Linked DNA regions of Homo sapiens. The protein of the gene in region 7 interacts with the protein of the main gene of each other region in a pairwise test. Each region holds a gene or a part of one and is shown on either strand. Other genes may lie near its edges.

Evidence for each region.
Region 1: the proteins of GRIPAP1 (region 7) and DRC4 interact in binary tests that used the Homo sapiens proteins (3 or more experiments, as listed by UniProt).
Region 2: the proteins of GRIPAP1 (region 7) and AARD interact in binary tests that used the Homo sapiens proteins (3 or more experiments, as listed by UniProt).
Region 3: the proteins of GRIPAP1 (region 7) and EHHADH interact in binary tests that used the Homo sapiens proteins (3 or more experiments, as listed by UniProt).
Region 4: the proteins of GRIPAP1 (region 7) and PRPF18 interact in binary tests that used the Homo sapiens proteins (3 or more experiments, as listed by UniProt).
Region 5: the proteins of GRIPAP1 (region 7) and CEP57L1 interact in binary tests that used the Homo sapiens proteins (3 or more experiments, as listed by UniProt).
Region 6: the proteins of GRIPAP1 (region 7) and ZNF35 interact in binary tests that used the Homo sapiens proteins (3 or more experiments, as listed by UniProt).

Annotation. Positions count from the first base shown.
Region 1 is NC_000016.10:90,032,680-90,036,179, reverse strand, and holds part of DRC4 (dynein regulatory complex subunit 4), read right to left. Parts: intron 3,463-3,500; coding exon 3,256-3,462; intron 548-3,255; coding exon 493-547; intron 1-492. UniProt on the Homo sapiens protein: Component of the nexin-dynein regulatory complex (N-DRC), a key regulator of ciliary/flagellar motility which maintains the alignment and integrity of the distal axoneme and regulates microtubule sliding in motile axonemes.
Region 2 is NC_000008.11:116,941,207-116,944,987, forward strand, and holds the end of AARD (alanine- and arginine-rich domain-containing protein), read left to right. Parts: intron 1-1,351; coding exon 1,352-1,495; 3' UTR 1,496-3,281; downstream 3,282-3,781.
Region 3 is NC_000003.12:185,192,587-185,195,049, reverse strand, and holds part of EHHADH (peroxisomal bifunctional enzyme), read left to right. Parts: intron 1-1,562; coding exon 1,563-2,463. UniProt on the Homo sapiens protein: Peroxisomal trifunctional enzyme possessing 2-enoyl-CoA hydratase, 3-hydroxyacyl-CoA dehydrogenase, and delta 3, delta 2-enoyl-CoA isomerase activities. Catalyzes two of the four reactions of the long chain fatty acids peroxisomal beta-oxidation pathway.
Region 4 is NC_000010.11:13,628,162-13,631,359, forward strand, and holds the end of PRPF18 (pre-mRNA-splicing factor 18), read left to right. Parts: intron 1-2,098; coding exon 2,099-2,179; 3' UTR 2,180-2,698; downstream 2,699-3,198.
Region 5 is NC_000006.12:109,168,507-109,171,712, reverse strand, and holds part of CEP57L1 (centrosomal protein CEP57L1), read right to left. Parts: 3' UTR 1-3,206. UniProt on the Homo sapiens protein: Centrosomal protein which may be required for microtubule attachment to centrosomes.
Region 6 is NC_000003.12:44,655,232-44,658,731, reverse strand, and holds part of ZNF35 (zinc finger protein 35), read right to left. Parts: intron 32-3,500; coding exon 1-31. UniProt on the Homo sapiens protein: May be involved in transcriptional regulation. Involved in cell differentiation and/or proliferation.
Region 7 is NC_000023.11:48,992,265-48,995,764, forward strand, and holds part of GRIPAP1 (GRIP1-associated protein 1), read right to left. Parts: intron 1,315-3,500; coding exon 1,164-1,314; intron 1-1,163. UniProt on the Homo sapiens protein: Regulates the endosomal recycling back to the neuronal plasma membrane, possibly by connecting early and late recycling endosomal domains and promoting segregation of recycling endosomes from early endosomal membranes.

The DNA.
Region 1 (3,500 bases), on a different chromosome or scaffold from region 7:
GGCCTGCCTTTGCCAGTGACAGGCATTGCTAATCGCTCCCTGCACTGGGGGTGCCAACAGCTGAATGTCAGCTGACCCCAGTGAGCAGTAACCGAGGCCTGTGTGGCCACCCAGCCACAATCAGCCTTTATTAGTAAAACACAGAGACTTCTGAAATTGGAGCCTTCTCAGACCAGGAGCCATGGAGAAGACTATTTTAAGAAGGCTGCCCACGGCACTGAATAGCTACCACCTGCTGATAACTACTGATTTTAGCTAGGAGTGGGAATGTGTGTGGTAATCACAGCCTCCCAAACTCACATGGAAATAGGTTGTTCTGGGATTCTGAGTGGGTCCACTGGCCTTGGAAACTTCCATGTTCTTTCTCTTGCATGCCTTGGCTGTTTTAATCCAGTTTTTGCTCCCTGAGTTAACAAGCTCTGGAGGTAAATTCCTCTCTGATGGGGCGGGGGTGTCTCTGGCACCTACACAATGAGCACACGGGAAACTGACCTCGAACTTGCCTCTCAAAATCATTCCGCATCCTGGTGATCTCCTCGGTGTGTTTCTGCACAGGGAGAAGCGGCCATTACTACACAGCCGGACACAGAGGGAAGCCCGCTCCCTTCAGGCTGACCCTGTTCCTCATGGTTTTGGTCACCTCCATATTCCCTAACTCACCTCCCTCAACTAAAGTCACCTCTAAGCTTGAGAGAGAACATGAACAGACGTCGTGAGCACTGAACCCGCTTGGTTCCATCGCCAAACCATCCCACAGCCTGAAGAGCAGCAGCCACATCCACACAGAGCTGTGGGATCTTTCCAGGTGCCGTGTGTAGCTTCCAACCTGCTGCACTGCTGCCTGAAGCAGCATATTAAAAGGATTCATTCCTGTCATCCCAGCACGCTGGAGGCCAAGGCAGGAGGATCACTTGAGGTCAAGAGTTCAAGGGCAGCCTAAGCAACATAGCAAGATCTTCTACAGAAAATTTAAAGATTGCCGGGCACAGTGGCTCACGCCTGTAATCCCAGCACTTTGGGAGGCCGAGCTGGACAGACCACCTGAGGTCGGGAGTTTAAGACCAGCCTGACCAACATGGAGAAACCCCGTCTCTACTAAAAATACAAAATTAGCCGGGCATGGTGGCACATGCCTGTAATCCCAGCTAGTCGAGAGGCTGAGGCAGGAGAATAGCTTGAACCCGGGAGGCAGAGGTTGTGGTGAACTGAGATTGTGCCACTGCACTCCAGCCTGGGCAACAAGAGCAAAACTCCATCTCAAAAAAAAAAAAAAAAAAAAAAAAAAAAGATTAGGTGGGTGTGGTGGCTCATATCTATAGTTCCAGCTACTTGGGAGGCTAAGGCAGAAGGATCACTTGAGACTAGAAGTTCGAGGCTGCAGTGAGCTATGATTGTACCATTGCACTGCAGCCCGGGAGACAGAGTGAGACCTCATCTCTAAAAATAAATAAATATATAGTTTTAATGAACAATTATTATATATTTAAATAAACATTATATATTTAAAATTTGCATAAAAAAATAAATTATTTTTAAAGCAGTAATTTTTCTTTTTTTTGAGACAGACTCTCACACTGTCGCCCAGGCTGGAGTGCAGTGGCACAATCTCGGCTCACCGCAACCTCCGTCTCCCAGGTTCAAGTGATTCTTCTGCCTCAGCGTCCCGAGTAGCTGGGATTATAGGTGTGCGCCACCACGCCCGGCTAATTTTTGTATTTTTAGTAGAGACGGGGTTTCACCACGTTGGTCAGGCTGGTCTCAAACTCCTGACCTCGTGATACACCCTCCTCGGCCTCCCAAAGTGCTGGGATTACAGGCGTGAGCCACCGCACCCGGCCTAAAGCCATATTTTTACCCAACAGGAAACTCTGATTATGTAACAATATCATATCCAGGACCTGGGTTAAGACCAGCTAATTCTGGAGGGCTCAAGACTTCGGCACTCTCAGGCTTTGCTGCGAAGTCAGCAACGTCACCAAGTTTCTTCCAGATTCAGTGGAGGCTGGACTGCTTCCAGGCGTGAGGCAAATGTGTTCAGAAAGTCTCCTCAACCCAGCAGCCAGGAAGAACCTTAGTGAGACACATCTCTCCTCTGCCCAAGTTCTCAGAGGGCAACAGACTCCACCAGGGTCAAAGTCCCAGTCCCCACCACGGCTTTCGAGGCGGACGAGCTCTGACCCGTCTCCAGTCCCCACCACGGCTTTCGAGGCGGACAAGCTCTGACCCTCTCCCACAGTCTCCTCCTGGTCACTCTGAGCTTTCCCACTGGCCCATCCCGTCTCCCAGCCGGTCAACTGCTTGTACAAAACCGCACCCCACCTCTCCCCACTTCGATCCTTCTATGGCACTCTTCCCCACCAGATACTCTGTTGTATCTGGCACGTTTATTTTGTCTTCCAACTCACCTGTTGTCTCTCCTTTCTAGACCAACAGCCCCAGTCGGGCAGGCGTTTTGTCAGAGATCAGATCAGGACCTAGCAGCTAATGGACACTCAGCAAATGATCTCTTTCCTTTTTGTTTTGTCTCACTCTGTCACCTAGGCTGGAATGCAGTGGCACAATCCTAGCTCACCACAGCCTTGACTTCCTGAGCTCAAGGGATCCTCCCGCCTCAGCCTCCCAAGTAGCTGAAACTATCGGCATGTGCCACTACACCAGCTAATGTTTTCTTTTAAATTTTTTAGACATGGGGTTCAACTATTTCACCCAAGCTAGTCTCAAACTATTGGCCTCAACCACTTCTCCCACCTGACCCTCCCAAGTGCTGGGATTTTGGGTGTGAGCCACTGAACCAGGTGCACAGATGAATTTTAATGGTGCCCTGGAAACCCCCAGCCTCAAAAGTAAAAATCAGACCAGCTTGTGTGACAAACTGTCACAGTGCCCAGGAGTCAACACACTGGATATTTTAATGGTTGGTTTGCATTCTACTAAATGCATATGATGCTATTCCCTAGGAAAAGTCTCTGGGTGTCAGGTGTCAGCAGCACATGAAAGATCCTAAGCTGGATTTTTTCTCTTCGGTGACGTCAATTTTTTGCTCAGGTCTGAGACAGAATTGTGTACTTGGTCCCAAAATGGGGTTTGTTTGGATGCATGCTTTAAAAAATTTTTTTTCAACAAATTGCAAAAATGCAGAAAGTCTTATGCAGAAATATGAATTCCCAGTTGCTGTTGAATAAACAGGAGTTCATGCAGCACTAGGCTTGCCGTCCCAACAACCTGTCAGCCTCCAGGTGCCCCCGCCACACCTACCAGCCGCAGGTTCTTCACCACCACCTCACTGGCCAGCTCCTGCTCCTTGAGCTCCACCTTCAGTGCCCGCATGTCCTTGCGCAGCACACTCTCCTGTATGCGGTGCTCTTTCTGTGCCAGCTTCATGACTACAGTGCCCTCAGCCTTCATCTCTGTCAGGTTGTTCTGGTGCTCATATAGCAGGTGCTTCACTTTCTGCTTGTACACCTGCAGGGCAATGGGAGTACCATCTGCTCACCTGCACC
Region 2 (3,781 bases), on a different chromosome or scaffold from region 7:
AGAGTGCTGTGGATGCACAGATGAGAGGCAATTATGTCTGCCCATGCAATCAGGGAGGGCTTCTCAGAAGAGCTGGCATTTGACTGGGTTCAGCAGAGAGAGGTGGCAAAGGGCATCTTAAACAGAAATGGGGACAGAAAGAGGTGAGCTTCAGCTCAGCATTTATTTAGGGACTGGCAAGGTTTCTGACCAGCTGCAATGGGAGCTGGCATGGGAAAGAGGGCCAGGAAAGGAAGCTCAAAGTAGGGCAGGATTATAGAGCATCTGGGCCACCCTAGAGAGCTGAAGCTTCCTGCAGGCAAGGTGCAAGGGTTTTTTGTTGTGGTGGTTGTGTGGTTACTGTTAGTGCTTGTTTGCTGGATATTCATTTACTTTATTCTTTGCTAATTCTTGCTGTCAGAAAAATGATTCTAGGTGCTTCAGAATGGAGAGGAATGTCTCAGAGAAAAACTGAAAGATAATTTTATCCAGTAGCTTTATTTTGCAAATCAGATGACCATGAATATTTGCTTTTTACCAACACACTGTCCTGGTTCATCCTGGGGTGGTTTCTATTGACAAGCTGATGAAGCTTTTTTAGCAGAGAGAACAAATTCCTCGTGAACTGCATTAAACAAGCCCTAGCTGAAGAAATTTGCAAGTAGTTGATCATTAGTTTTCAGTTATAATACAAAGATTATGTTGGACTAAGCTTTCTTGGACTGCCCCCGGGTAACATGCCCTAGAGATCTTTTTTTAAACGCACGAGGACCTTCATAAACTCCCATTGAAGGATGGTATAAATCAGCCTTGATATGAAACAGATTTCACTCCAGAGTGAAAAATGTTAGATTATATAAGTACACATAACTATACATGTGTCTCTAAGGTGTCATTAAATGTTTTTGCTCAGCAGGTAGACCATTTAAAATCCTGAAAACTTGAAATGATAAGTAATCAAGTAAATAGCACAGATTCTGAATACTCAGGTGGCTGTAGGCAGTTATCCTGTGGCTCAGAAGGCGCATAAAGATAAATGATTTCATTGTGGATCACATGCTATTCCTTGAAAACAGCCTTCGGTGCATAGGTATTTTTCATATGGACAGCTTTGTGCATCAGCTACTTTTGTTTTCATTTCAAGCCATTTCAAAAACTATTTATATATCTGGATTTTACCTTGTCATATAGAAAGTCAGTTTTATAGCCAGACCAAACAGTTAAAACTGGAGAATAAGATGAGAAATACATCTTCCTTGATATCTTATTTTCTTTTCCTACAAACTTCTTATTTCTTCTGTGTAGTCAGAGAGTGGTTTCATTTGATCTGCATCTCAGGCTAATAAAATTTTTATTTTTTTCTAACTTTTAGGTGGAAATGCATTTCCAAAACCACCAGCTGGCTAGAACTTTACTGGACCTAAACATGAAAGTGCAGCAATTGAAAAAGGAGTATGAACTGGAAATTACATCAGACTCCCAAAGCCCAAAAGATGATGCTGCGAATCCGGAATAAAGAAATGCACACGCAAGGGCTGGGCGCGGTGGCTCACGCCTGTAATCCCAGCACTTTGGGAGGCCGAGGCGGGCGGATCAAGACGTCAGGAGATTGAGACCATCCTGGCTAACACTGTGAAACCCTGCCTCTACTAAAAATACAAAAAATTAGCCAGACGTGGTGGCAGGCACCTGTAGTCCCTGCTACTCAGGAGTCTGAGGCAGGAGAATGGCGTGAACCCAGGAGACAGAGCTTGCAGTGAGCCGAAATCCTGCCACTGCACTCCAGCCTGGGTGACAGAGCAAGACTCCATCTCAAAAAAAAAAAAAAAAAAAAAAGCACACGCGAAGCTCTGGATCCTAAAACTAACGCATACAACCCTGAAACAATTCTGATGAACACATTATGCTTTGCATAAGTTTTGAGGGGCAATTTATAGACCCAAAACAAATGACAGGGGAAGGTGACAGAAAAACATCTAAGAGAGGGGAGAGAAAAATGATGTATTACCAAGTTTTAAAGTTATTTATTTGTTATTTTTACTGGGACATAGAAGTAAAATATAACTATAGATAAATCTCTCTCTGTCTCTCTCACTCAAAGAATGCTTTAATGCCAACTTTCGGTATTCAACCTTGTGTCACCTGACCTTTCTGGCATTGCCTGAGCTTTCAGAGTTTGTGCTTGTTTTGTTTTACTTGATTATTCTCAGTTTGTCTGTCCAGCAGCCTGCCCTGCTTCTTGTGGAGAATTGTTTCTACTTGGATTCTAACCATGCCCTTTAGGTGGTCTGTGACTAAGGGTATTCCATCTTCCTGGATATAGTCATGCAGCTCAAGGCAGGCAGATGGGTTTGTCCTTAGGATTTTTGAATGGGCACTAAAAGAGTAGATGACTATTTCTGCCAGTAGAAGCTGTGGATCAGGGGCTTGGAAGCTGCTGGTGGTCACCATGTGAGAAAGCCCACACCCTAATGGAGGTGACTGAAACGGAACCACTAAAAGCACAAAAGGGGAGGGAGGGAGGGAGGGTGCTTCGCTTCCTTGTTCCTGGGGTCAAGCTGTATAAGACTCCAGGCCTTGCTCTTGTTTATGTACATGAAATATTCTGATATCCTTCTCATAAAATCTCTTTTTGCCTAAGTAAATTCAAGCTGGAGTTTCATGACTTGTATCTAGTGTTCATAACTAATACAGTTGTTCAGTTTTAGGAGTTAAAATGGTTCTTACTGTTGAATTGGACTATCTAACTGTACCCGAAAAGTGCTGTCTTTTTAATGCAAACAGTAAAGTTAATAAAAAATAGTTGCAGATCTAAGTGATATTTATAATGGTTATTGTCTGCAAAATACAAATTAATTTATAACAAGCTATGTAATTTTAATATTTAATAAACTATAAAAATCAGTTCTTGAAGACAAAGGAGAACAGAAGAGACACAGTCTTTCTCTTGTTAAAAGAAATACAAGGACAAGCATGGTGGATCACGCTTGTAATTCCAGCACTTTGGGAGGCTGAGGTGGGCAGATTGTTTGAGCTCAGGAGTTTGAGACCAGCCTGGTCAACATGGCAAAACCCCATCTCTACTAAAAATACAAAAATTAGCCAGGCGTGGTGGTGCTCGCCTATAGTACCAGCTACTCAGGAGGCTGAGGCATAAGAATCACTTGAACCTGGGAGATGGAGGTTGCAGTGAGCCGAGATCATGCCCCTGCACTCCAGCCTGGGTGACAGAGGGGGACTTGGCCTCGAAAAAATAAATAAATAATAAAAATAAAATAAATGCAAGTTGTTTTATGTGTGTGAGGATCTGAGAATTATCTGGACTAAGTTTAGTTTGTCCTTAACTTTTTTGTCCACAATAAGTAAATTATTCTAGCCCTTTGGTACTTAATTTCCCTCTGTATAAATGAGGAATTACCAAATTCAGCATTGGCAGATGAGCAGTTGCCAGCATCTCAATATCTGACCATTGTGTTCCTTCACACATTTTACGTATGAGCTCTTGGCCTATAAATATACGACTACTATATTAAATTTCATTTGTAAACTAGATTTCCTGTTTATTTCTTCCTTTGAATTTTATAGAAATTTTTAGGAAAGGGTTGGCATAGTTCCTTGTGATCTGTTTTTTGAAAAAGCTTCCACTTAACCTTTGGGACAATCATTCTCAAGTGCATTTTAAAGATTAACATTTATAAATTGTTGTAATTTTGTGTTTAAAAAATACTCGAGGTGATTCATTGTATGAGCTCAATTCCTTACAGAATACAGACTGCTGATGTTGGTTAATACTAATGTCATT
Region 3 (2,463 bases), on a different chromosome or scaffold from region 7:
GTCCAACTTCATTCTTTTGCATGTGGATATCCAGTTGTCCCAGCATCATTTGTTGAAAAGACTATACTTTCTCTGTTGAATGTTCTTGGCACTCTTGTTAAAAATCAATTGGCCATAATTGTGTGGGTTTGCTTTTGGCTATCAGTTCTATTCTGCTAATCTATATGTCTATCCTTTTGCAATGACCACTATCTTACACTGTCTTAAATACTATAGGCTTCTTTTTTTTTTTTTTTTTTTTTTTTTTTTGAGACAGGGTCTCACTCTGTCACATAGGCTGGAGTGCAGTAGTGTGATCATAGCTCACTGCAATCCTCAAACTCCTGGGCTCAAGATATCCTCCTGCTTCAGCTTCCCAAATAGCTGTGACTATAGGCATGCACCATCATGCCTGGCTAATTTTTGTTGTTGTTGTTGTTGTTGTTGTTGTTGTTGTTGTTACAGAGTTTCAATCTTGTTGCCCAGGCTGGAGTGCAATGGTGCGATCTTGGCTCACTGCAACCTCTGCCACCTGGGTTCAAGTGATTCTCCTGCCTCAGCCTCCCAAGTAGTGGGGATTACAGGCATGCACCACCACACCCAGCTGATTTTGTATTTTTAGTAGAGACGGGTTTTCTCCATGTTGGTCAGGCTGGTCTTGAAATCCTGACCTCAGGTGATCTGCCCACCTCGGCCTCCCAGAGTGCTGGGATTACAAGTGTGAGCCATTGCACCTGGCCCCCTGGCTAATTTTTAATTTTTTATAGAGTTGGAGTCTCACTGTGTTGCCTGGGCTGGTCTCAAACTCCTGGTTCCAAGTGATCCTCTCACCTTGGCCTCCCAAAGTGCTGGGATTACAGGCACGAGCCACCTCACCCAACCTTGAATAGTTTTGTCATACAATTTGAAATTGGGAAGAGTGAATCCTCCAACTTTGTTCTTTTTCAGTATTGTTTTGGCTCTTCTGGATTTCTTGCATTTCTATGTGAATTTTAGGATCAGCTTATTGATTCTGCAAAAAACCAGCTGGGATTTTTATAGGAATTGTGTTGGTTCTTCACATCAATTTGGGTAGTATTACCACCTTAACAATATTAAGTTGTCTGATACAAAAACATTTAATGTTTTTCCATTTATTTGGTCTTACTTAATTTCTATTAACAATGTTTTGTACTTTTTAGTGTACAAATCCTCCTATTCTTTGTTAAATTTCTTCCTGTGTATTATTCTTTTTGATGCTATTGTAAGTAGAATTGTTTCTTTTAATTTTATATTCAGATTGTTTATTTCTAATATATAGAAATATACTTGATTTTTGTATATCAATTGTGTACCTACAATCTCGTTGGACTCATTTATTAGTTTGTATAGCTTCTATTTGTGTGTGTGAATCTGACTAATTTTTATATCCTCTGAAACACTTAAGAGAGTGCAGAGTCTTAACTAGTACTCAATCCATTTGTGTTTCTTGACTCAATCTCTTTAAATGCCACATTGTCACATAAGCCTTCCATCCAGTGAATAATTTATCAGTTCCCAATACCACTGAATCATTCTTTTTCTCCTTTGATTTTTATCTGCAGGCTTGGGAACAATGGGCCGAGGCATTGTCATTTCTTTTGCAAGGGCCAGGATTCCTGTGATTGCTGTAGACTCGGACAAAAACCAGCTAGCAACTGCAAACAAGATGATAACCTCTGTCTTGGAAAAAGAAGCCTCCAAAATGCAACAGAGCGGCCACCCTTGGTCAGGACCAAAACCCAGGTTAACTTCATCTGTGAAGGAGCTTGGTGGTGTAGATTTAGTCATTGAAGCAGTATTTGAGGAAATGAGCCTGAAGAAGCAGGTCTTTGCTGAACTCTCAGCTGTGTGCAAACCAGAAGCATTTTTGTGCACTAATACTTCAGCCCTGGATGTTGATGAGATTGCTTCTTCCACTGATCGTCCTCACTTGGTCATTGGCACCCACTTCTTTTCGCCAGCTCATGTCATGAAGTTGTTAGAGGTTATTCCCAGCCAATACTCTTCCCCCACTACCATTGCCACTGTTATGAACTTATCAAAAAAGATTAAAAAGATTGGAGTCGTTGTAGGCAACTGTTTTGGATTTGTGGGGAATCGAATGTTGAATCCTTACTACAATCAGGCATATTTCTTGTTAGAAGAAGGCAGCAAACCAGAGGAGGTAGATCAGGTGCTGGAAGAGTTTGGTTTTAAAATGGGACCTTTTAGAGTGTCTGATCTTGCTGGGTTGGATGTGGGCTGGAAATCTAGAAAGGGGCAAGGTCTTACTGGACCTACATTGCTTCCAGGAACTCCTGCCCGAAAAAGGGGTAATAGGAGGTACTGCCCAATTCCTGATGTGCTCTGTGAATTAGGACGATTTGGCCAGAAGACAGGTAAGGGTTGGTATCAATATGACAAGCCATTGGGTAGGATTCACAAACCTGATCCCTGGCTTTCCAAATTCCTATCACGGTATAG
Region 4 (3,198 bases), on a different chromosome or scaffold from region 7:
TGCAAAAGCCCTTCTTGTGAATCAGTTGAAAGATAACCTCCCTCCACACCCCTAATTCCTAAATCTCATAATGTGGGCAATCCTTGAATCCACCAAGGACTTTAAATACTTCACAGTCTTGTTTCTCTGATGTGGAATCTGTTAGATTATGGCTCCATTCATAGAAGTATGTCATTTGTCCCTTAATATCCTCAGGGATTGGTTCCAGGACCCTGCAGATACCAAAATCTGGATGCTCAAGTCCCTGATAGAAAATGACATAGTATTTGCATATAATCTATGCACATCCTCCTGTATACTTTAAATCATCTCTAGATTACTTACAATACCCAACACAATGTAAATGCTATTTAAATAGTTATTATATGATATTTATTTGTATTATTTTTAATTCTTTTTTTGTTGCCGTTTTTTTCTGAATATTTTTTAACCAGGGTTGGTTGAATCCATGGACACATAACCCATGGATACTGACTGTGATTAATATTTGTGTTGTCTGCTTACTATGGGACCAATGAGATTTTGCAGGGATTTTTGTGTTGTTTGTTTGTTTTGGTGATTTTATTGAGCTTAACAGGTGTTAAGTTACGTAGATTTCAGTAAGACCTTTGGCAAAGTCTTTCCTTGTAAACAAGGAAATGTGTGTGTTAATGAATTGCACAGTGAATAGGATTCATTGCTGGTTACAAACTCTTCCCAAGATCGTTTTGGAGAGAGCTCAATCGTGGTGTGTCTCAGGTCTCTGCCCTTGCCCTGGCCTGTTTGCGCACGGTATTGAGTATTTGGATAATGACTTAGAGGACATGTTTACCGAGTGGTGGATGAGAAAGCTAAGAAGAATAACTAAAGCTAAATGTCGACCAAGGATTCTGAAAGATCACAGACTGAAGGATGAGTTGAAAGAGACAGGATGAAATTGAATAGTGATAGTTGTTTTCATCAGCTTAAAAAATCTAACTATAAAGTTATACACTGGAGAACTGGCCAAACTGCTGTAGAGACAAAAGGCACTTGAATTTTGTGAGATCGGTGGGAATTAGGTGTGTGTATTGTAGTTGTCTAAAAACAGCTAAGGGTCTTGGTTACAGTTGCCAAGATACAGAACAAAAGTAGTGCAGTGACTACTTCTAGTGAATTCTGCAAGAATGGCCAGGTCACGCTTGGAATGTTGTACTCAGTTTTTACTGACATATTAAAGTGGTTTTATTGTGTAATATTTGGTACATACAAAAGAATACATGTAAAACACAAGTTATAAAGTAAGTAATAAAATGAATGTCTAAAAGCCTTACTCCCAGTTTAAGAACTAGAACATTCTGAAAACCATTGAAACAATATTGTCCTTCCATACTCCAGAAGTAACCATTACCTTGCACTTAAGTTTGTCATTTCCTTTCTTTTTGAAAAACCGTTCCACCATGTTATATGTGCATTTCTAAGTAATACATTTTTTACTTGTTTTTGAATTTTATGAAAAGGATGTCACTGAAGGTAGTAACACTTCATGCCACTTGCTTTTTACTTTCGACATTGCTTCTAAGATTCATATACATCGGCCTTTCCCAACCAGAGCCCCTCATCTTGACCACAGAACACAGAAAATAATTGGAGTGTATTTTCTCAGTCCTCCAAACATGATACATAAATAGTCTCCTAAATTTTAGATGCATAAGGGAGAAGTTATCTCGTTACATACAATGGATGCCTTAGGCTGGGCATTTGGAGCTTAATTCTCTATTGGAACCTGGTTGAGACTGGCCGAATTGTTACATGTAGCTAGAGTTAATTCATTTTTACTGCTGTAAGATATCCCATTTGTGAGCACACTAAAGTTTTTTTCATATGTCCTCCTATGGATGGAAATTTGGGTTGTTACCAGTTTTTTGGTTTTGTTATTGTGAACAGTTCTGTGATGAACATTCTTGTGTGGACCTGCAGGTGCACAAGAAAAATTTCTCTAGGCATACATCTGAGTGAATTTGCTTGGGTCTGCTGCATTTTATGGGGACATTGACAAACTGATAACGAGTTCAGAGGAAGGCAGTTAAGAATAATTTAACCATGTCATAACCAACCTTTGTTTTCCTTATTTTCTTAGGGATTGAAGAGGTTAATGACCATTTGCCAGAAACACTTTCCTACAGACCCATCCAAATGTGTGGAGTACAATGCACTGTGAGATCTGTGTATGGTGTGTTAATAACAATAAGAAACTTAGGGAAGCAGGCTGTGGACTTCTGGAATTACCAACAGGAATGAGGAAAGAAGAAAACTGGAGTTTCCAGTCTCTGAGTTCTACCTGATGTAACTCTTGATTGGTTTTAAGAACTTTGTTGGCCTTCATTTCATATCTGACTGCAAGCTGATTTTTCTTTCTTGCTTTCATTTTAATTAGTCCAAAATTAAGTTTTAAAGATTTTTCCTCACAATTTAAATCCATAGACAACAGAAGGGGGTTTAAAATGACCTTTTTTTCAGTTGACCCGAAAGTTGTGGTTAGATGATTAAAAAGAAACATTTGAGGATGGACTTAATTATTTCAGTAAAATATTATAATTTGCCTATTGTCTTTTATGTAATATTTATATAAAATATTTTTATATATTTCAAAAACATGGGACCATTGAATGAAACTTTATAGTCCTTAAATGTTGCTGAACTTTTGCTGTCTTGCAATAGAATTTGAATGTAAATATTATTACTGGTATAACTCAAATGTTATTTTTCTTGCATTTCAAAGCTTGCTTTTATCTTCCAAGAAGTGTAAATTTTAGTATTTGTCATCTCTCAGGACAGATACAATTAATAGGAAATAGAAGTTTGAAGAAACAGAGATGGCACATCATAGCAAACTAAGTTCAAAACAGAATAACCCCAGTGCATCAAGGTTAAGGTGGGACAGTGGTTTGTGATGCCAGGGAGAGTGGGGAAATTGTGATGATGCTGGTAGACCTGGGCAGACTGTGTTCCCAGCCACACCCGCCAACAGAGGAGGAAGGTGCTGGTACTGATGTCCCCACCCGAGAGTCTGTCCTGGCCTTGGTTTTCCACAGTGAGGGCTCGTTCTAATGTTGCACAATGTCATACTCAGATATCACTGTGACCTGTTACTATGCTTTAGAACCCGAGAGGCCTCTGTTCACATGGCAGCATGTGTGAGTGGATGCTCCCGGAGCAGGTGGAGTGGTGGCGCTGGAT
Region 5 (3,206 bases), on a different chromosome or scaffold from region 7:
TTAATTTGATAAGCCTGTCCTCCTAAAGCTTGTACTCCCTTGCAAGACTTCTTTGCATATAAACTCCTAAATGCTTTAATCTTTTAGTGGTTTATGTTTTTTATTTCTGTAGATGGTAGTTTAAACTGATAGTATTTTAGTAGAACGGTTTAAGAGAATCAAACTCTAGGCAGGGCGCGGTGGCTCACACCTGTAATCCCAGCACTTTGGGAGGCTGAGGCGGGCAGTTCACCTAAGGTCAGGAGTTCGAGACCAGCCTGGCTAACACGGTGAAACCCCGTTTCTATTAAAAATGCGAAAAAAAAAAACAGCCGGGTGTGGTGACGCATGCCTGTAATCCCAGCTACTTGGGAGGCTGAGGCAGAAGAATCGCTTGAACCTGGGAGGCGGAGGTTGCAGTGAGCTGAGATCGCGCCATTGCACTCCAGCTTGGGCAACAAGAGCGAAACTCCGTCTCAAAAAAAAAAAAATCAAACTCTACTTTGTGGCATTATTTATGGGAATGCTCTGAGAATGAGAAATCACAGGCAAATATATCATACCCAAACACCAAAGGCACAGCCCTCTTTCGACTTGAGAGCCATTCTGTAAAAGAACAAAGAAAAAAGAACCTGTTTGAAATTTTGGCTTAAGTGTCCACCATTTAAATCATACCTTGAGAGAATCAAGAATGTAATACTGATATAAATTTTTCTAAGCTTATAAAGGAGAAGTTATATACATAAAATAGAATAAGTTTTTTAAAAAATCAATTATTTTTTAGATTAAAGTAAAAGCAGATATCTTTAAAGTAACTTGTTTTTAACTCTGGTACTGACTTTCCCAGCTTTAAATTGGTAGCTTGGTTCATTTCAGGGAAAATGAAGGCAATAATGCTTTTTATGTGTTCAAGCATTTCAACAGTGCTATTCTCTCACATGTATTACATATTTTGGATAAGCTATCTCTGAAAATATTTTGTAAGATATTAAAGATACTTTTGCTAGAAATTGTAAGTTATAAAACCATAAATGTTCCACAGACTTCTCGAGAGCTTTTTAAAATTTAATTTTAAGTGGGTTTCCTGTGCACCAAAATGGTTTATGTTTTAAATAACACATTTGTAAAGTTAAACGGATCTACAGTGATGAAGAGTGAAATACTTTCCAATTCAGCAAGATTCTGGACAATTGCCCTGTAAACATCAATCTTGTATTTCAGGCATGAAATGATTCACATTCTGTACTAGGTTCAGTAACAGGTTTTTCTAAGAAATACCAAAGGTCAATGTACATTTAACTTTAAGGCAAACTAACAACAACAACAACAACAACAAAATGCCTCTCAAGGTTTTTTAGAACCTATCCTAAAATTTACTTAACTACATTAAGCCAAGTCAGGTTGAAAAGTACATTATTTTACATTATTTTAGCTGATTGGAAGGTCTGGCTCACTTTACAATCCTCTGTTCTTAAAGACTAAGATTTCTTTCTTTAATTGTTTAGGTTAACTTTAGTAATTTGTAGTGGTGAATAAACTTCTACAAGTGGGTAGAATCCCATTACAATGGGATTATATTTGGTGGCCTTATTATTGCTCATTACCCTATAACACTTCTTCCTACCTTCTGACCATTGTCCAGAGCAGAGTGGCTTTGCTGATATGGTTATAAGAAATCTATTAAATAGGATATTAAAGGCCAAAGAAATCCTCTCAGGAGTTAGTTTATTTAATGAAGCTATCTTTCAGGTAAGATATTTATCCACTTATTCATTTTAAAATATTCAATCAGGTTGATTGCTGAGTAAGATGACATGTTTTTAAAGAGTACTACATTGGTGGTATTATCAGGTTTTTAATTTTCATGGTGCCACTGACTGTTGATGCTCGGAAAAATAGGGTTTGTCAAATAACAGATCTTTGCTCTCTTCAGATTGGAGACATGCAGATAGTTTTTCTCCGACAAATCTCACATTCTTATTGGTTGTAAAACTGTCTGAAGCACCTACAGAGCAAATTTCTTTCTTAATCATAAGACTCATGCTTGGTTAGATTTTACCAAGAGGTAGCATAATGAGGTCATTTTGTTAAGGGATTCATACTGAATGTATTTATTTGCCCACATTAGAAAACCAGTATTTCTCTAAGGTAAGTTGGCTAGTGTTTGAAAATTGTATTCTATAGACCAGGAAATGCAACAGTATTGATTAAAATGAGACTTGTTATCTGTAAAACACATGAAACAATATTTCTGGGATAAACAATAGATTGGCACATCCATAACAGGGGACTTGGGAGTATTCCTATTTTAAATTGGCTATTCCACTTTTCTCCACACCCTTCAAATTCATTCTCACTGAATACTTATTAAAAGCCAACTTTTTCTTCCCTAAAAAACATTTAGGGCTACATTAAAAATGACAACCCGTACTCACAAAGTTTCACAAAACATAAGCTACCTTAATTATGTGTGATGCACTCTGATCTTTTTTTTTTTTTTTTTTTTTGCTGATGGAGCCTCACTCTGCTGCTCAGGCTAGAGTGCAGTGGCACAATCTCAGCTTACTGCAACCTCCGCCTCCCTGGTTCAAGCAATCCTCTGGCCTTAGCCTCCCGAGTACCCGGGATTACAGGCACATACCACCATGCCCGGCTAATTTTTGTATTTTTAGTAGAGATGGGATTTCACCATGTCGCCCAGGGTGGTCTTGAACTCCTGAGCTCAGGCAATCTGCCCGCCTCGGCCTCCTAAAGTGTTAAGATTTTACAGGCGTGAGCCATCGCACCTGGCCACATTCTGATATTTTCAATACTATTTTATATCATTTAAAAAATGCTGGCCAGGCATGGTGGCTCACGCCTGTAATCCCAGCACTTTGGGACACTGAGGCGGGCAGATTGCCTGAGCTCAGGAGTTCGTGACCAGCCTGGGCAATACAGTGAAACCCCATCTCTACTAAAATACAAAAAATTAGCAGGGCATGGTGGTGCACACCTATAATCCCAGCTACTTGGGAGGCTGAGGCAGGAGAATTGCTTGAACCTGGGAGGTGGAGGTTGCAGTGAGACGAGATTGTACCATTGCACTCCAGCCTGGGTGAAGGAGCGAGACTCCAATCTCAAAAAAAAAAAAAAAAAAAAAATGCTGGTAGTGACCCGCTAAATTGATTTGACAATCCACCGGTATGACTGTATGTACTATGAAAAACACTGACTGGATCCAACCA
Region 6 (3,500 bases), on a different chromosome or scaffold from region 7:
ACCAGTAACTGTAGGTTCTTGGTTTCAGCACCTGAACCAAGAAACAGAAAATACAAATGTTAGCTTTCTCTGGCCTAGAAAAAGAATAGGATCATCAAGTCATAAAACGAAGTATGTGATTTCAGCACCTCCACAAAATGGCTTCATCAAAGAAGAGAATCCCATCACATGTTACCTCTCCTCTCTAGGTTCTTCAGCTGGGGCTTTGCCCTCCCCTCTACCTATGGCAGAACCCACTGACTCGTGGTCTTTCCAGCACTTCCACTTGCCTCCATTAGACACTTAACCCCGCTGCCCGCTGCCTCATGCCAGGGAGGGCCAATCTCCAGACAGTGCTCCTGCTGGCTGTATGATGACTGCCCTTGCAACAAAGACCAGTTATGAAGGACACAAGCCTCTCCCTAGGCTTGCCTTCTTACCTTAGCTACTTAGTGTGGATTTGCTTGCAACCCACCAGTTAATTAGGGTGATTTGCTACCTGTAAACAAAGATCTAGCAACTGAGGTTTCTGTGTCTGAGGATGCTGGATATCAAAGAAAGGATAAGCACGGACAGAAAGGGTAACACTGGCTGCCAAGACAGCCACAGCAGCCAAAACCATATGAAACACTGCGAGGTCCTGCAGCATACAGGTTAAGAACATGGATTCTAGAGCTAGACTGCCTGGTTTCAAATCTCTGCTCTGACACTAACTAGCTCCATGACTTTGGGCTACTTAACTCCTGTGTGCCTCAGTTTCCCAATCTCTAAAACAGGGATACTAATAGTATCTACCTCATAAGGCCATGAGTAGATTAATGGAGTTACTCTATGTCAACTACTCAGATATTGCCTGGAATACAGTCAGTGCTCTGAATGTGTGCAGCAACTTTCAGGCTGACTGATGATGTTGTGAGGGGCCAGAAGGAAAGATGAACCCTTAGGGGAGGGGAGCTGCTATGGTGATAGACAGCTACACTAGGAGAATAAAAAAAGAAACTGTACATGGCAAACTCTTACCCTTGTGTCAGGGGAACAGCTTAGCATTGTGTCAAGGAAAGCTGACCTTGTTGAGTTATGGCATAGCCTGCTCCACAATGCCAGAAAATATCATGAGAACTTCAAAACACCCTGAAGCTTTATGACACTGATTAGTCTCTGGATGCTTTACATTGCTTCAGAACCTAATGGTGTCAAAAAGGGGTCCTGCTATCAGTAACATCATAGTTCTTTATGTTTGTCTCCTCTGCACACTCACTTTCCTTAACCTTGAAATGTGCACCCATGTAATCCAGTTTTGGCACAGTGAACCCTTAAGAAGTGTTTGTCAATTAAACCAAGCTCAAGAAATAAGGCAAGTGAAATAAAGGGTAACAGGAATGGGTGGCAAGCCTGTAGAGGAGGGAGGTATTCCCACTGGTGATGTCAGCTCAGAAATAAGCAGTGGTGCTGTGAGCTTCAGGTTATAACTGCTGCTACTGCGCAGGGGAGAGACTAGCACCCATGAGAGGGAAATATTCTATAGGATGACCATCCAACCAATGATATGAGTGGGTGGGACAAGGATGTTGGGGTGGTACAAAGCAATATTGGGGGCAGGAAAACAGCCTGGTTTGATTGCCTGGTTAAGACTATGGTAATCTGAAATTCTATCACAATCATTCAGACAAGATGAGCAGTGTCAGAGGAAAGAAATGCCCAAGTGCTGGATACAGTAGAGCCCCAGATATGACAAACAATAAATATCTGAAATGCTGGCCAGGCACAGTGGCTGATGCCTGTAACCCCAGCACTTCGGGAGGCTGAGGCAGGCAGATCACCTGAGGTCAGGAGTTTGAGAACGGCCTGGCCAACATGGTGAAACCCCGTCTCTACTAAAAATACAAAATTAGCCAGGTGTGGTGGTGCATGCCTGTAGTCCCAGCTACTTGGGAGGCTGAGACAGGATAATCACTTGAACTTGGGAGGTGGAGGCTGTACTGAGCTGAGACTGCACCACTGCACTTGCACTCCAGCCTGGGCCAGACAAAGCAAGACTCTATCTCAAAGAAAAAAAAAAAAAAAAGCCGGGTGCAGTGGCTCATGTAATCCCACCACTTTGGGAGGCTGAAACGGGTGGATCACCTGAGGTCAGGAGTTCGAGACCAGCCTGGCCAACATGGTGAAACCCCGTCTCTAGGAAAAATACAAAAAAAATAGGTGGGTGTTGTGGCAGGCACCTGTAATCCCAACTGCTCTGGAGGCTGAGGCGTAAGAATCAATTGAACCCAGGAGGCAGAGGTTGCAGTTAGCCGAAATCGTGCCACTGCACTCCAGCCTGGGCAGCAGAGCGAAACTCATCTCAAAAAAAAAAAAAAAATCTGAAATGCTAAACTTTTTCTGGTTATTTCTATTCCTACTGTTCTGCTAGCTCCCTCTTTTTAAAAATGTTCTGTTTTTCTCTCTGTAGTTCACTTGCTTTTATATCTTTTCTTCTGCTGCTGCTTATTTTTTCCTGCTATCTCGACCCCCTACTGACTCTTCATCTCTCTCCTCTCCTGTTTTTTAATTTTTTGTGTGAAATATTTTGAATTTTTCCATATACAGTTTCATGCCTCTTCTGTTTTTCTTTTGCTGACTGCTTGCTTCTCTTTGTGTTCTCTACTGTTACTTTATCACCTACATCCCACTTTATTCTCCTCCCATCCAACGTCTCCTCCCTTGATTCTTTTCACCTCCTCTTTTGCTTTAACTCCCCATCACTGACACGTGGGCCTCCCATACCCCAGCTGGGCATCTCTCCAACAGAAACAGAGCCCATGAAAACTTTAGTTCATAGCTGCACTGTCTCCCTGACTTTCACTCCTACCCTCCTTACTGGGAGATTTAGAATGTTGGGCATGAAGATCAATGGGAACTACTAAACTGATTAGAGCCAATAACGGAAACAATTCCTTCTATCTGAATAATGTCTCATGTCAAAACCATTACAAAACCAGGTGCAACTGTAGCCTAGAAGGTTTTCATGCAAGTGATTCATCACTGAGTAAAGTAAGACCTGGGGTCTTGGCAAGTGCCTAAGAAAAGAGAATTAGGGTCCATCTGGTATAGTCAAGTTCAAATTTCTTTGGGTAAAAAGATTAATCAGCAAATAATCCGGGCGTATAACCTTGGCTTATTTGAAATGGTATTTTTCCTTTTTTTAAAAAACATGTAGGATTACTGTAGCTCTAGAGAAATTAAATTAAGTACAGAAATAATGAAAAACTAAAACAAAAACTAATTTGTGACCAACTAGAACACAGGCATAGCCATAGTTTTTAAATCAATACTCTTCTTTCACTCTTTTTTTTTTTTTAAAGATAGCTGAAATGCTACATAAGCCTGCCACCTTAGCTGGTGACTGTATTCTGAGATAAGAAGGGTAATTTGATTTACTAAATTTATAAGTCCAATTCATTAGATTTATAACAGCTGTGTTTATCAAGATTTTATTTACAAGATTTGTAAGTCTGCCCAGTTAGGTGTTTGGAATGTTTTAA
Region 7 (3,500 bases):
CAAAGTGCTAGGATTACAGGTGTGAAACACCGTGCCTGGCCTAATTATTTTATTTTTAGTACACACAAGTTCCTGCTATGTTGCCTAGGCTGGTCTTAAACTCCTAGCCTCAAGAGATCCTTCTGCCTCAGCCTCCCAGAGTGCTGGAATCAAGGTATGAGCCACTGTGCCCAGGCTCTCACAAATATTTTAAGCCCTATCAACCACTAAGATTCTGTTTACTATTAAATTAGCCCAAGCTGGTTTCACAAATCCCATTCTCAATCCTTGAAGCCCCACCCATAGCCCTTGAAGGCCATGCCCACCATATGCTACCACTGACTTACAGCTGAATCCCTCCTAGAGCCTCCTAATTCCTACTCACATTCTACTAAGTCTCCCTCCTGGTCATGGAACCAGCATCCATCACCACAGAAGTCCCAGCTGCTCTCCAAAGTTCCACACACCACATGCTCCCACACTCTATCAAGCTTTCTTTCAGCTTTCATCCCAGACCCCACTTACAATCTGGGCTCAGAATCTTCCCAACACTCCATTCACTTTTTCACTTAGCAAATATCTCCTTTTTTTTTTTGAGATGGAGTCTCGCTCTGTCGCCCAGGCTGGAGTGCAGTGGTGTGATCTCGGCTCACTGCAAGCTCCACCTCCCAGGTTCACACCATTCTCCTGCCTCAGCCTCCAGAGTAGCTGGGACTACAGGCGCCCGCCACCGTGCCCGGCCAATTTTCTGTATTTCTAGTAGAGACGGGGTTTCACCATGTTAGCCAGGATGGTCTTGATCTGCTGACCTCGCAATCCGCCCGCCTCAGCCTCCCAAAGTGCTGGGATTACAGGCGTGAGCCACCGCGCCCGGCCGCAAATATCTCCTTTTTGACATTCAAGCTGCTAATCTGTAACATCTGCTAGGTACCAGACACTGAACTAATGCAGAATGATATCACCTTTTATCTCTACTACAATCTTCTGGGTGACAGACATCACTACATGCACTGTGTAGATGATAAGGCTTTGGCTCAGAGAGGTGAAATGGCTTGTCCAAAGCCACACAGGGCATGGGCCAACCCTATTTCTGAAGCCCTTCTCCTTCCCCTGAGAGGATGACGGCCTTCCTTGCCCTACTCAAGCCCCAATGTCTCCGCATCCCCAGGAGGGCCTCTATGCACCTGCCACGTTCTTCTGCAAGGCTGTGTTTTCAGCCTGTAGCCTCAGCAGCTCCCCATCCACGAGGGGCCCAGCTTGGGCAACCCCTGCTCCTGCAGCCCCCTCCTTCAGTTGCTGGTTCTCTTGCTCCAGCTGTTCCATCTGGCTGCAGAGCTGAACAGAGGAAGAGAAGGGGCAGAGAAGCAGAGAATCAGAGCAGTATTTGCTGAAACCTACATAGCATTTGTCCATGTACTTTACAATTCACTTAATTCCCATAATGACCCTATGATATAGGTGCCCTCCCACTTTACAAATAAGGACATTGAGGCACAGAGATGTTAAACAAGTTCAAATTCACACATCTTTTAAGTGGCAGAGTCAGAGAATACCAAGAGCATACCAAGTATGAGGACACCAAAAACCATTTTCCTCTTCCTACTCCCAACCTCAGAGATGCAATCCAAGACCTCAGGCTCCTCTGGAAGTTGTTAGTGCTACAGACAGCCTCACTGCAACCCCTCTTCTGTGGAGGGCTGGATCCTGGGCCCAGAGATAGCTCCCTCTCATCCTAAGCACCACAAAGAGCTCGCAGGGCATTTCCAGGGCCAACACTGATGACAGCTCCTGCATTGCCAGCCGTTAGTCTTGGAGAGGTATACAATGCCAATACAACTAAGCCAGCCCCCTGCCCAACTCCTGGCTGAAGTACACTTCTCAAAGCAGTCCTGAGAAAATTCCTTGTCCCCATTTTCAGATGAGAATATCGAGGCCTACAGAGAATTTTTATTTTATTGCCTGCAATATTTTCTTTCTTTTTTTTTTTTTTTTTTTTTTGAGATGGAGTCTCGCTCTGTCACCCAGCCTGGAGTACAGTGGCACGATTTCAGCCCACTGCAACCTCCGCCACCCGGGTTCAAGTGATTCTCCTGCCTCAGCCTCCTGAGTAGCTGGGACTACAGGCATGCGCCACCGTGCCCGGCTAATTTTTGTATTCTTATTAGAGACGGGGTTTCGCCATGTTGGCCAGGCTGGTCTTGAACTCCTGACCTCAGGTGATCCACCTGCCTCGGCCTCCCAAAGTGCTGGGATTACAGGCATGAGCCACCGCACCCGGCCTGCTTGCAATATTTTCTACCCAGAACACCAATCCTCTCATCCAGTTCTTCACCTAACTGGCTTCTTTGCATCCCTCAGTGCTCTGCTCAGATGTTGCCTTTAAAGTAGTATCCCTCAACACAGAAAATTCCAGTACTCTCTGTCACAGCACTGTTCATTTCTTTCTTACCTAGTACTAATCAAAATTTTCTTTTGTAACAAGCACAGATTCTGAAACCAGACTGCTTGAATGTGAATTTCTGCTCTGCCATTTACTAGCTGTGTGACAAATTACTTAATCTCCCTGGAACTCAGTTTTCCTCATCTGTCAGATAGGGATACTAATATCTCATAGGCTTATTTCAAAGATTAAATGAGTGAATAATGTAGAGTACTTCAAACAGGACTTGGCACACAGTAAGCACCATATAAATGTCAGCTATCACTACTAGTATTATTTGTTTACTGTTATCATCTTTCTCCTCATCCCACCCCCAGAATGTAAGCTACCCAAGAGTGGAGATCATTCTGTGCTGCTTACAACTGTATTTCCAGAACATAGAGCATGTGGTGGGTACTCAGTAACTATTTGTCGAAGGAACAATTAAGCTGAAATGTCTTGATGAATAAGGGGTGGTGGCAGGTTTAACGTAGCTCTCTCTGAGAGCACTTCCAGTTCCTGGGAGGAGTTGGAGGAGGAAGGGGACTATGTAGGAAGTCTCTACGACTAGCCCAGTGCTGGCCCAGGGCAGATGCAGGGAAACAAGCTGGATTTATGGAAGAATGTCTGCCCCTGCCTCACTCTGCAAGAATCATGATACCATGGAGGCTGGAGGCAGGAAGCAGTGAGGAGTCAGTCAGTGAAGCCAGCAGTTATGTGAATACCAGGGGCTCTGAACTAGGAGCAGGACTGGGGCACTGGAATGTATTAAGTAAAGGAGTGATGTCATAAGATCTGCAGGTCAGAACAGCCTCTGTGGTGTGAACTAAGTAGAAGAAACTAGAAGTGAAGAGACCAGGGAGGCGGCTGTAGAAACAGCAGATGATAAGTGGTAGAGGCTAAGGCAAAGCAGGGCCACAGGGTGGATATAAAACTTTTTTTTTTTAAATTGAGACAGAGTCTTGCTCTGTCGCCCAGGCTGGAGTGCAGTGGTGCAATCTTGGCTCACTACAACCTCCGCCTCCCGGGTTCAAGCGATTCTCCTGCCTCAGCCTCCCGAGTAGCTGGGACTACAGGCACGTGCCACCACACCCGGCTAATT